2 linked regions of the Homo sapiens genome follow. The protein of the gene in region 2 interacts with the protein of the main gene of each other region in a pairwise test. Each region holds a gene or a part of one and is shown on either strand. Other genes may lie near its edges.

Evidence for each region. Proteins that work in one complex are often made in the same cells at the same time.
Region 1: the proteins of STOM (region 2) and SFT2D2 interact in binary tests that used the Homo sapiens proteins (3 or more experiments, as listed by UniProt).

Annotation. Positions count from the first base shown.
Region 1 is NC_000001.11:168,236,004-168,239,503, forward strand, and holds part of SFT2D2 (vesicle transport protein SFT2B), read left to right. Parts: intron 1-585; coding exon 586-621; intron 622-708; coding exon 709-767; intron 768-3,127; coding exon 3,128-3,157; intron 3,158-3,500. UniProt on the Homo sapiens protein: May be involved in fusion of retrograde transport vesicles derived from an endocytic compartment with the Golgi complex.
Region 2 is NC_000009.12:121,362,781-121,368,384, reverse strand, and holds part of STOM (stomatin), read left to right. Parts: intron 1-2,139; exon of another isoform or gene 2,140-2,269; intron 2,270-5,604. UniProt on the Homo sapiens protein: Regulates ion channel activity and transmembrane ion transport. Regulates ASIC2 and ASIC3 channel activity.

The sequences.
Region 1 (3,500 bases), on a different chromosome or scaffold from region 2:
TGTTATAGAAGGATGGCGAAGAAAGGCATGGCTGACTGCTCTAGCACCAGTTGTCCTTGGCCAGCCTCAGATGCCCACGGCCTGGACAAGTCTCTTGCAGAAAGAGCTTTCTAAGAATGGCCTTAGGGAAAGTGTTAGGTGATAGGTACACAAGTAACTGGCATGCTGACTGTGAGATTGATATCTCAGGTTAACCTTTGTCCTCACATGTGCTTTCTGCTGCAGAGACTAGCATTTGGTAGGAGTTAAAATAGAAAGATTTGTGTTAAGCTTACTTTAGTGCATTTGAATGAAAAGATGGATGGACGGATGAATGGGTGGGCCTGAAATGTGATTTGTTTGCTGGGCAGAGGTTCTGGGAAAACTTGAAAGTAAAAGAACATCTTATCTATGTGAATCTTTATTGGCTAGTTTGATTTCATGGAGATTTTTAACTATTCTGCCAAATATGGGTGCTCAGGTGGGTTAACTGCTTTGAGATGAAGGATGCATAAGTTTTGTGCATTTGTGAAGAATAACAAGTTTTGAGTTTTTTTTTTCCTGCCATGTTATTGTCATTAATTAATGTTTCCTTTCTTCCTTTAGTTGTGTTTTGCACTTACCCTGTGTTCTGCCTTTTGGGTAAATGTATATTTTAATTTTTCTTAACCATTTTGGCTTTTGCCCCTTGTCTCACACTCTCCTATAACCATATTATTATTTTTCCAGTGGCATAACAAGGGACTTGCACTTATCTTCTGCATTTTGCAGTCTTTGGCATTGACGTGGTAAGTAACCTTTTAAACAATCCCCTCCCACATAGCCCACTGAATAATGTAGCCAAAGGAGATAAAACTCACATATTGTGGGTGGGAGAATTAAGAAAACACAGAAGCTGTTTAATTTAAGGATTCGTAATGATGAAAGTGAAGTCAGGCTCCAGAGCAAATGCCTATCAACCCAGCCCACTGCCAATAGATGGCATTAGTGGTCTTGAGTGGTCACAGGAGGCTCCTTGTTTGCCTGCTGTGGCATTTTTGCTGAACTAATGGTTGATTTTTGAGATGTTACAAATATTATTAAGCCACTCATGTCCGGTAAGTGCAAGGACAACAAAAGTATTATAAGGGATGTTAAAAAGGCTTGTGAGTCCAATAGAGGTTAACAAAAAAGGAAAGTGGTAAGAAAAATAATGAATGTTACATTTGTGATAGAATGAATCATTTAACAGAAGGACAAAGAGTGAACTGTCAGCAGGAGATGAGGAACAGTCACTGACGAAATGGAAAAACGTGTGTCTGTGGGCTGTAGGATCAGCGTATGTGCTCAGAGGCTTGTTGGCTTTTGGTAATTCAGCTGAAGAGTAGGAAATTGTAACTCCAGAGCCAAGTATAGTAAAAGGGCCGCTGGAGACATTTTGGGAAACCATGAGTGGGGCTGTAGGTTCATGGTCCTTTCAAGCCTATACGACCTCAGAGTGAGAGGGGTGGTGGCATAGTTGGAATCTGTAGGTTCCAAGACATTTCTGTAGTTCTTTCAAAGTTTATCAAGGGATGGTATCTGCCAGAACAGTTTCAGTATAGATGTGACTCACCTATTTTTGAAAAAAATGTTTGCTACAGTGTAAAGAAAGGAGGATTGTGGACATTTTAAAGTTCTGAAGAATTGGTTAACTCCTATTTGGTAGAAATGAATCTTGAGACTGTAAGCTTAACTCCCATCCCTCCCTTTAGCAATTTTGGACTTTTGAATAAATATAGTTACAAATTGCCTTTTGGAATTTACTGTGTTGACAAGTAATTGAGCTTCTGTACATGTTAAGTATAAGATATGGAGAAGGATGCTGGTGTTTGTGTTTATGTGTGTGTGTGTGTGTATGTTTTTTTTTTTTTTAAATGACATGCACATTTGAGTGGTAGACTGTTTATATTTTGATTTTTCTTCCAGGGCAGAAATTGGTACCTATATACACACACCTTGCTTTGCTTATAGACTGATTTTGAATCCAGTTTCAGAGGTTCAGCATTCATATGGGTCCAGCTGAATGGTGATATTCCCTTCAACACTCATGTGTTCTGACTGTGTTTGCTTTTCTAAGGGCTAACTTACAGTCTGCCTGACACACAGTGCCTGGTTCTTTAGCATTATGGAGCCTGTTCCTTGTATATGGTTTCCTTCTAAGTGACAGGGCTGAGCTAACTGGAATTTACCAAGATACCTTTGGACGTACTACATTTTCACTCATAGAGTAGTTGGTAGCATTTTTTTCTTCTTCTTTTTTATTCTCTTTTCTCTTCTTTTAAAATTAATAGGAGCAGAGCAGAAAATTTATCCCAATTAGGTAGAAGTTAAATTCTGTTTAGAATTTATAAAATGTTAGGAGTTCAACTGTGCCAGGTATGGGTGGCTCACACTGTAATGCCAAGACTTTGGGAGGCTGAGGTGGGAGGATTGCTTGAAGCCAGGAGTTTGAGACTAGCCTGGACAGTGTAGCAAGACCGGGTCTCTGCAAAAAAACAAACAAACAAACAAAAAAAAACATTAAAAAATTAGCCGGGCATGGTGGCACATACTTGTAGTCCCAGCAATTCTGGAGGCTGAGGCAGGGGGATTGCTTGAGCTTCCTAGACTTGAGCCTAGAAATTCAAGGCTGCAGTGAGCTATGATTGAGCCACTATATTCCAGCAGCCTAGGTGACGAGCACGACCCTGTCTCAAAAAAAAAAATAAATAAATAAATAAAGGAGGGGGGTGCGGTTCAACTGTTCTGGGTTTTATTTGATATTTTTTCAGAATAGAGTTTCTGTGCCATCTGGGTATTTGAAATCTGACTGTTTAAGGTGATTGTTGCTAGTTCAAGGTTATAGCAGTACTGCATTGAGGCCGAGGTCATACGGGTTATCTCCACATGAACCTTTTGCCCTTCTTCTGTGGCTGCCTATCTGTACATGGCCATAGTGTGTGTGTTTGGGTACACGTGCATGCACATGCGTGGGCCTTTGTGTGCACATGCTCATCCCCCAGGCTGAGTATGGGAGAGGGTCTGGATAGATCACTGCAGGTATTCTTACAGCTCAGAAGCCCATTCTGCTGGATAATCTGCTACTCCCTTCATCTCATTTGACCCTTTGTTTTGTTTTTCATTATAGGTACAGCCTTTCCTTCATACCATTTGCAAGGTAAGACTGTGTATTTGGAAATAATGATTTCTGTCATTTTAATTCAGAGTCTGCTTTCAGAGAGTATAGCCTATTTTATTTATCTTTACTGAAGTCTTTTGAGTCAAGTAGACAAATACTATACATCTCATTTATAGATAAGTAAGTTAAAGGTCACCCCACCACCCACTCTAATTATACAACTAATGATGGATATTTACCCAGGTACACTGATTTCCAATGCTGTGAACATTCTACTCTTATATATGGTGCATATATGCACATTATTACTCTTTTAACCCGTAGCTTTGAGTAGGGTTTTTTTTTTTTTTTTTTTTATAAAGGTGAATGTCATTTCATATCA
Region 2 (5,604 bases):
TGGTGGGAAACTGCAGTGGCAAATCTGCTTGGAGTTCTTTGAGAATCAACATGATCTTTGTACTTAATGTTTATTTACAGACAAGTGGTCATAGATGAGTTTTTAACTTCCAGTTTTTTTCCTTGGTTCTACACTTAACTACTGTTTAGACAGAAATCTTTCAAGATCTAATGAAAACCACCACTTCCTCTCAAAAATTAGACATACAAATAAAATTTTGCATAGTCTGTGTTTTTTTAATGTAAACCTAACAAATTTGACGCTACTAGGAAAGGTATTGCTGGAATTTATTAAATAGAGGTTATTGAATGCTTTCCCTGTGCCAAAAGACAGTTTAAGTGCTTTACAAACATTATCTAATTGCATTCTGTAACAGCTCTACAAGGAAAAAGTCATTATTCACCATTTCACAATAAGGATACTGCGGCTCACATGGCAAAATCACAGTTTCTAAAATTTTCAGCCCTGTTTCAAACCCCGGCTATCTGATTTTCTGAATCATTTTCCCTATCCCAGAGATGGATACCAAAATGTAGAACCTTGTCTAACTTCAGTACTTTACTTAAGTTGAGAGACAATAAACAAAAAAAGCCTGGAGGAACACAGCTTCAGTGATGACTTCCAGAAGGCTGCTTGTGAAAGAAGCAGTGGAATTTTAAAAGCCTAAACTCTGCCTCTTTGTCTTTACTGAGAATTAGTCCTAGGTAGGTAAATAGCACCAGGCCTAGGGCAAGACTAGTTTTTCTTAAAGGCGATGCATTCACTTTGTAATGAAATAATGCAAGTAATTGCAAAGAATGTATCACTGTAATTAAGAGCCATGTCAACAAATAAAACCCTTTGGGAGACTGATTGTTTATTTCAGTTGTTATAGCCAATCAGATTGGAGAGAACTTTGTAACTTCTTCAATAATTAATCTGAGTTATTCCATCAGTGGTCATAAATTAACTTATGGAAGACCAAGTCTACAAAACTGGCATATTTATTCATGATTAAATAGATTTTTGGTGCCATTTGATGGTATAAATTTTACCTAGTAAAAGACAGTCACTGATTCCTAGTCATCTTTGAGGGAAAAAAAAGATGTTGATAAAGTGATACAGATGGAATTCAAAATCAGTTTTTTTAAGAAGGCATGGAAAAGCAATTTCCTGAAAACTATTGTAACTACAAAAAAAGTGAATACCCTTTCCCTGCGTCTGCCTGGTATCCTGTGCATATCTCTATCATAATGTTTATTACATAACATATTTATCAGTTTGACTCATCTGTCCCCTCCCCTCCCATAATTAAACTACACTTTTTCTTTTTGAGACCGGGTCTTGCTCTGTTGCCCAGGCTGGAGTGCAATGGTGCAGTCATAGCTCACTGTAGCCTCAAGTGATCCTCCCACCTCAGCCCCTCGAGTAGCTGGGACTACAGGTATGCACCACCACACCCAGCTAATTTTTTTTTTTTTTTTAACTCAGGGTCTCACTATGTTGCCCAGGCTGGTCTCGAACTCCTGGACTCAAGCGATCCCACTTTACCCTCCCAGAGTGCTGGGACAACAGGCATGAGCTACCAAGCCTGGCCTTTAGACCACACTTTTGAAAATAGAGATTGTGTCCTTCTTCACTGTAGTAGCCCAGTATCAAGTACATAGTAGGTATACAAAAACATTTGTTCAAAGAAAAAGGAAGCAGGCAGGGAGATAAAAATCCCCCTGGAGTAAATAACATTGTTAAGTGTTTGCCTTAGCCTTATGTTGGTGGAGCAGTTTTTCTGTTTACCATTTATTTTATTAAGTTTGTTATAACTTAAGCTGTTGATTTTAGGGCATGGCCATTATGTTTATTATATATTATTACAGATAGACTATTTGTCTGGGTTTATATTATCAATAAAAGGATTATAATTGCCAAGATAATATATTGTCCTTAATAAGAAATCTCCTTTTATTTATTAAAGCATGGAAAGAGAAGTTTAGAGGTCATGGTTAGTAGAAAGAAGGAAGTGTGTGTCAATAGATAATTTTCTATTGACACACACTTGTTGATAATTAAAATAGATCATTTCAATTAAAATAATTTTCTATTGACACACACTTGTTGCTACATTCTTTTTTAATCTTTCTCTGTCTGCTGGGACTACTAAAGAAACTTGAACTCCAAGCATTTGGCCTCACATTTCAGAAGATTATCCTTGAAGATACAACCAATAAAGTCCTAAAGTCTCAGACAATGAAAACTATACTGAACTTGTGGTCCAGTTAAAGTGAGCACTATGGTAAGGTAGTAGAATATAGTGAAATGAGAGTGGAATTTATAATTAAAAGATTTAGGTTGAGATCACCCTACCATCACTTAAGAGATTTGTATGAAGGATGGTCCAAGAACATTTAGAACTCTGACTTACTGCCCCAAGTGTAGTCTGTTTCTCCTCCAGAGATAGAGTCCCCAAGCAGATTGTTAGTTGATATTTTCTCCATAGTGCCCAGATCCCAAAAGGTAATTCACTTCATAAAAAGTTTCTTCCTCTAAACTTATCAATAGTGATCTTAAAGTTGTGGTAATAATAATGGCTACTGCTTGTTGAATACTTCCTAAGTGTCAAGCCCTTTACATATTTTCTCGTTTTATCTCCACAACAACTGAGTGAAATAAATACTGTTCTTTTCCCCATTTTACTGATAAGAAAATTTAGTGGTAGATTTGGAATCTAACACCAAAAATGCAAGCTTTTAGCCACTGCTTAGCTGTTAATCACAGTGAAGAACTGAGAACTTTATCATCTAGTTTTCTTCTGCTTCCATTTCCCATTTTTAAATGAAAACGATGTTACCCTCCAAAGACTTATATGAGAAAAACTTAATTGTGAATAATTTTAAGATGTCCAAGTAAAAGAGCTGGGAAAAAAAAAAAAAACCTAAAAAGTGGGAGGGTTTTTGTTCTGTTTTCATGTATTTCAGGCCTAGATGAAATTTAATTAACTTAATACCCATTATGAAATTGTTTTTCTCTCCAATTTTCCTGAACATAAATGTTTTGGTGCTTCCAGACATGGGCCATGTTCAGCCCATTCTTCTGCTTTCCTGAATTCTCTAACGTCATGGTTGGAAAAGGTCTGATTTTTTTTTTAAAAAGAAAATACTTGAGGAAAGCAGTTGACAACTGCTTGGGCAGGAGATGGTTCTGTACTGTATCCCAGGATCCTGTCTGCTGTTTCAGTTTGTCTTATGTGAGAGGCAGTCTTTTTTTTTTCTTTTCCCCAAAAAAACAACACACTCAACTCATCCAGCAACTATTTAACAAATGTTTTTTGAGTACCTGTTATATACACTAAGTGTCTTCCATATTAGCTTATTTACTCATCACACTAACCTGAGGAGGTACTCTTATTAGCCCTATGTTTCAATGGGTAGACTGAGGCACAGTTGAATAATAAGGTACTTTCTCAAGATCACACAGCTAGTAAGTGGCAGAGCCATCTGTGAACCTATTATGCTATACTGTTTTCATAAAACCAAAATCTCATGAAGACACACAACTGAATAGAATAATTACAAGTGTGATAAATGTTGTTTTAAAAGGGTAAAGGGCTATTGCAGCATTATTTTAGACTGAGAGGTCCAAATTTAAAATTATTGCTGTTGCTCTCACCTATTTTTTTCCTCTTGTATGGCCTGAAACATTTGAATGCAGGAAAACTACAGAAAATCCTTAAAATATTTAGGAAATAAGACATTTATGCTTATTTACTTTCCTTATTCTTTTTGAGCTAAGCAAAGAATAACTGTTATTGCAAATCTTTCTTAGAAGTATTAGTCCATTTGTTTTCCTTAGTATTTCACAGTAAACACATTTTAAGCTTTGTAATTCAAACCACATAGTGCTTCATCAGTATCAGTTCTTTTGGTCTAGCATTTATAACTATAGATGGATTTTAATAGGGAGGAAAAGTTACAGTCTTCACTCATGGTTTTTAACTTGATACCATCTGGCCTGTAGCTACTCTAGCCCCAAGAATAATTTCTTCTCTAGAGATTTAAGGATAAGGGCATTCGAACAACTAAGCCGTGCCTAATTAAAATACTAATTTGAAAGGCAGGCTATAATGTGTGTGTGCTTGTTTGCTTTGAAATCTTCTGCCTTAAATGAATTGCAAGTTTTGATCTCTAATGAAACACTATCATTTTTTAACATACGTTTATCGAGACGCTACCATGTGGTAAACTCTGCCTCTTTCTCACTTCTAGCTTTTTTAATCTATCTCTCTTTGTAGGATTCTGTCTTCATTTTTGTTTCTCCCATTTTTACTCCTTCTATTTCTCTTATTTTCCTTCGCTTCTGCTATGTCCTTCCCTTCTTTGTCTTTTTCTCCTAAAATTCCAGTCATTTGAAAAACTTAGTTATAGTAAAAATTTGATTAATTGAAGAGGAATTTATATTCACTTACTCTACCTGCCCTTTTGCTTATTTTCACCAGGAGTTTTTGTTTATCAGGCCTTATAAAGGCCTTGCTTCAAAATAAGCAAAAGGGAGAAACTGAGAAGCTGGGAAATGTACCCTTATTTGAATAGCTGGAAGAAAGATCAAATGCATTATTTAATTTATGCAAGTCTTCCTCCTCAAATAAATAGTTGGCTGACATAAAACAGGAACAGCGTGTAACAGCCCATTGTCCAAATCTAGCTGACTCTGTTTCTGTATGTCCCACAAGTTATGAAATAGCTCTTATATTTTTAAATGATTTTAAAAAGGCAAAAGAATACTTTTTCATTACACATGAAAATTATGTGAAATTCAGATTTATGTCCATAAGTTTTATTGGAACAGCTGTGCTGTTTATGTAGGTACTATCTATGGCTTCTTTTGCACTGCAAAAGTAGAGTTGAGTAGTTGCAACAGACTGCAAAGCCCAAAATATTTAGTTCCTGGTTCTTTACAGGAAAAGTTTGCCAATCCTGACAAAGAATCACTGATGAAGAATCATAGTGGCCAAAAGTAACACTTAATCCTGAATACATATGTTTTTAAGAAGAAAGTTCAAAAATTGCCAAGACTTTTCAATTTGGCCTACTGTTACCCCTAAAAAGTGCTGCTGCAACTGAATAGCATGTGTTTTTGAGACTAAACTTCCAGCCTTTCTGTCTTGCCCCATCCAGGCAGGACTGCTCTCATCAATTTACAACATGAAGTGTTTTATTTGCACTCTGTGAAGGCAGAAGGAAAAAAGTGTCCGTTAAAAAGTGGCAGTTTAGGTATTTCAGTAATTCCTTAGCCCATCCTTTCTTATTGTGTAGGATAATGCTTATGACTCACAGTCAGATTCTCAGCAGAGGAAATCCAGTTATCTGTTGAACTTTACAATAATAAAATCTCAGTGATGAGTGGATTTATTACTCCACATGATTTCCAGTAGTGCTAAGGTTAATAGATCTGAAAGTAAATCAGCTGATGGGGAACGGGGACAACTACAGCCCTCTGGACTAATCAGCCTGTGTTGTCATCTTGGAAAGAATGTTTAACTGCCTTTCCAGAAACTTACCCAACAAAAATTACTACACAACAAATTTCATTTGTTTCATGGTTTGCTTGGTTTTCTTTTGTTTCTTCCTACAA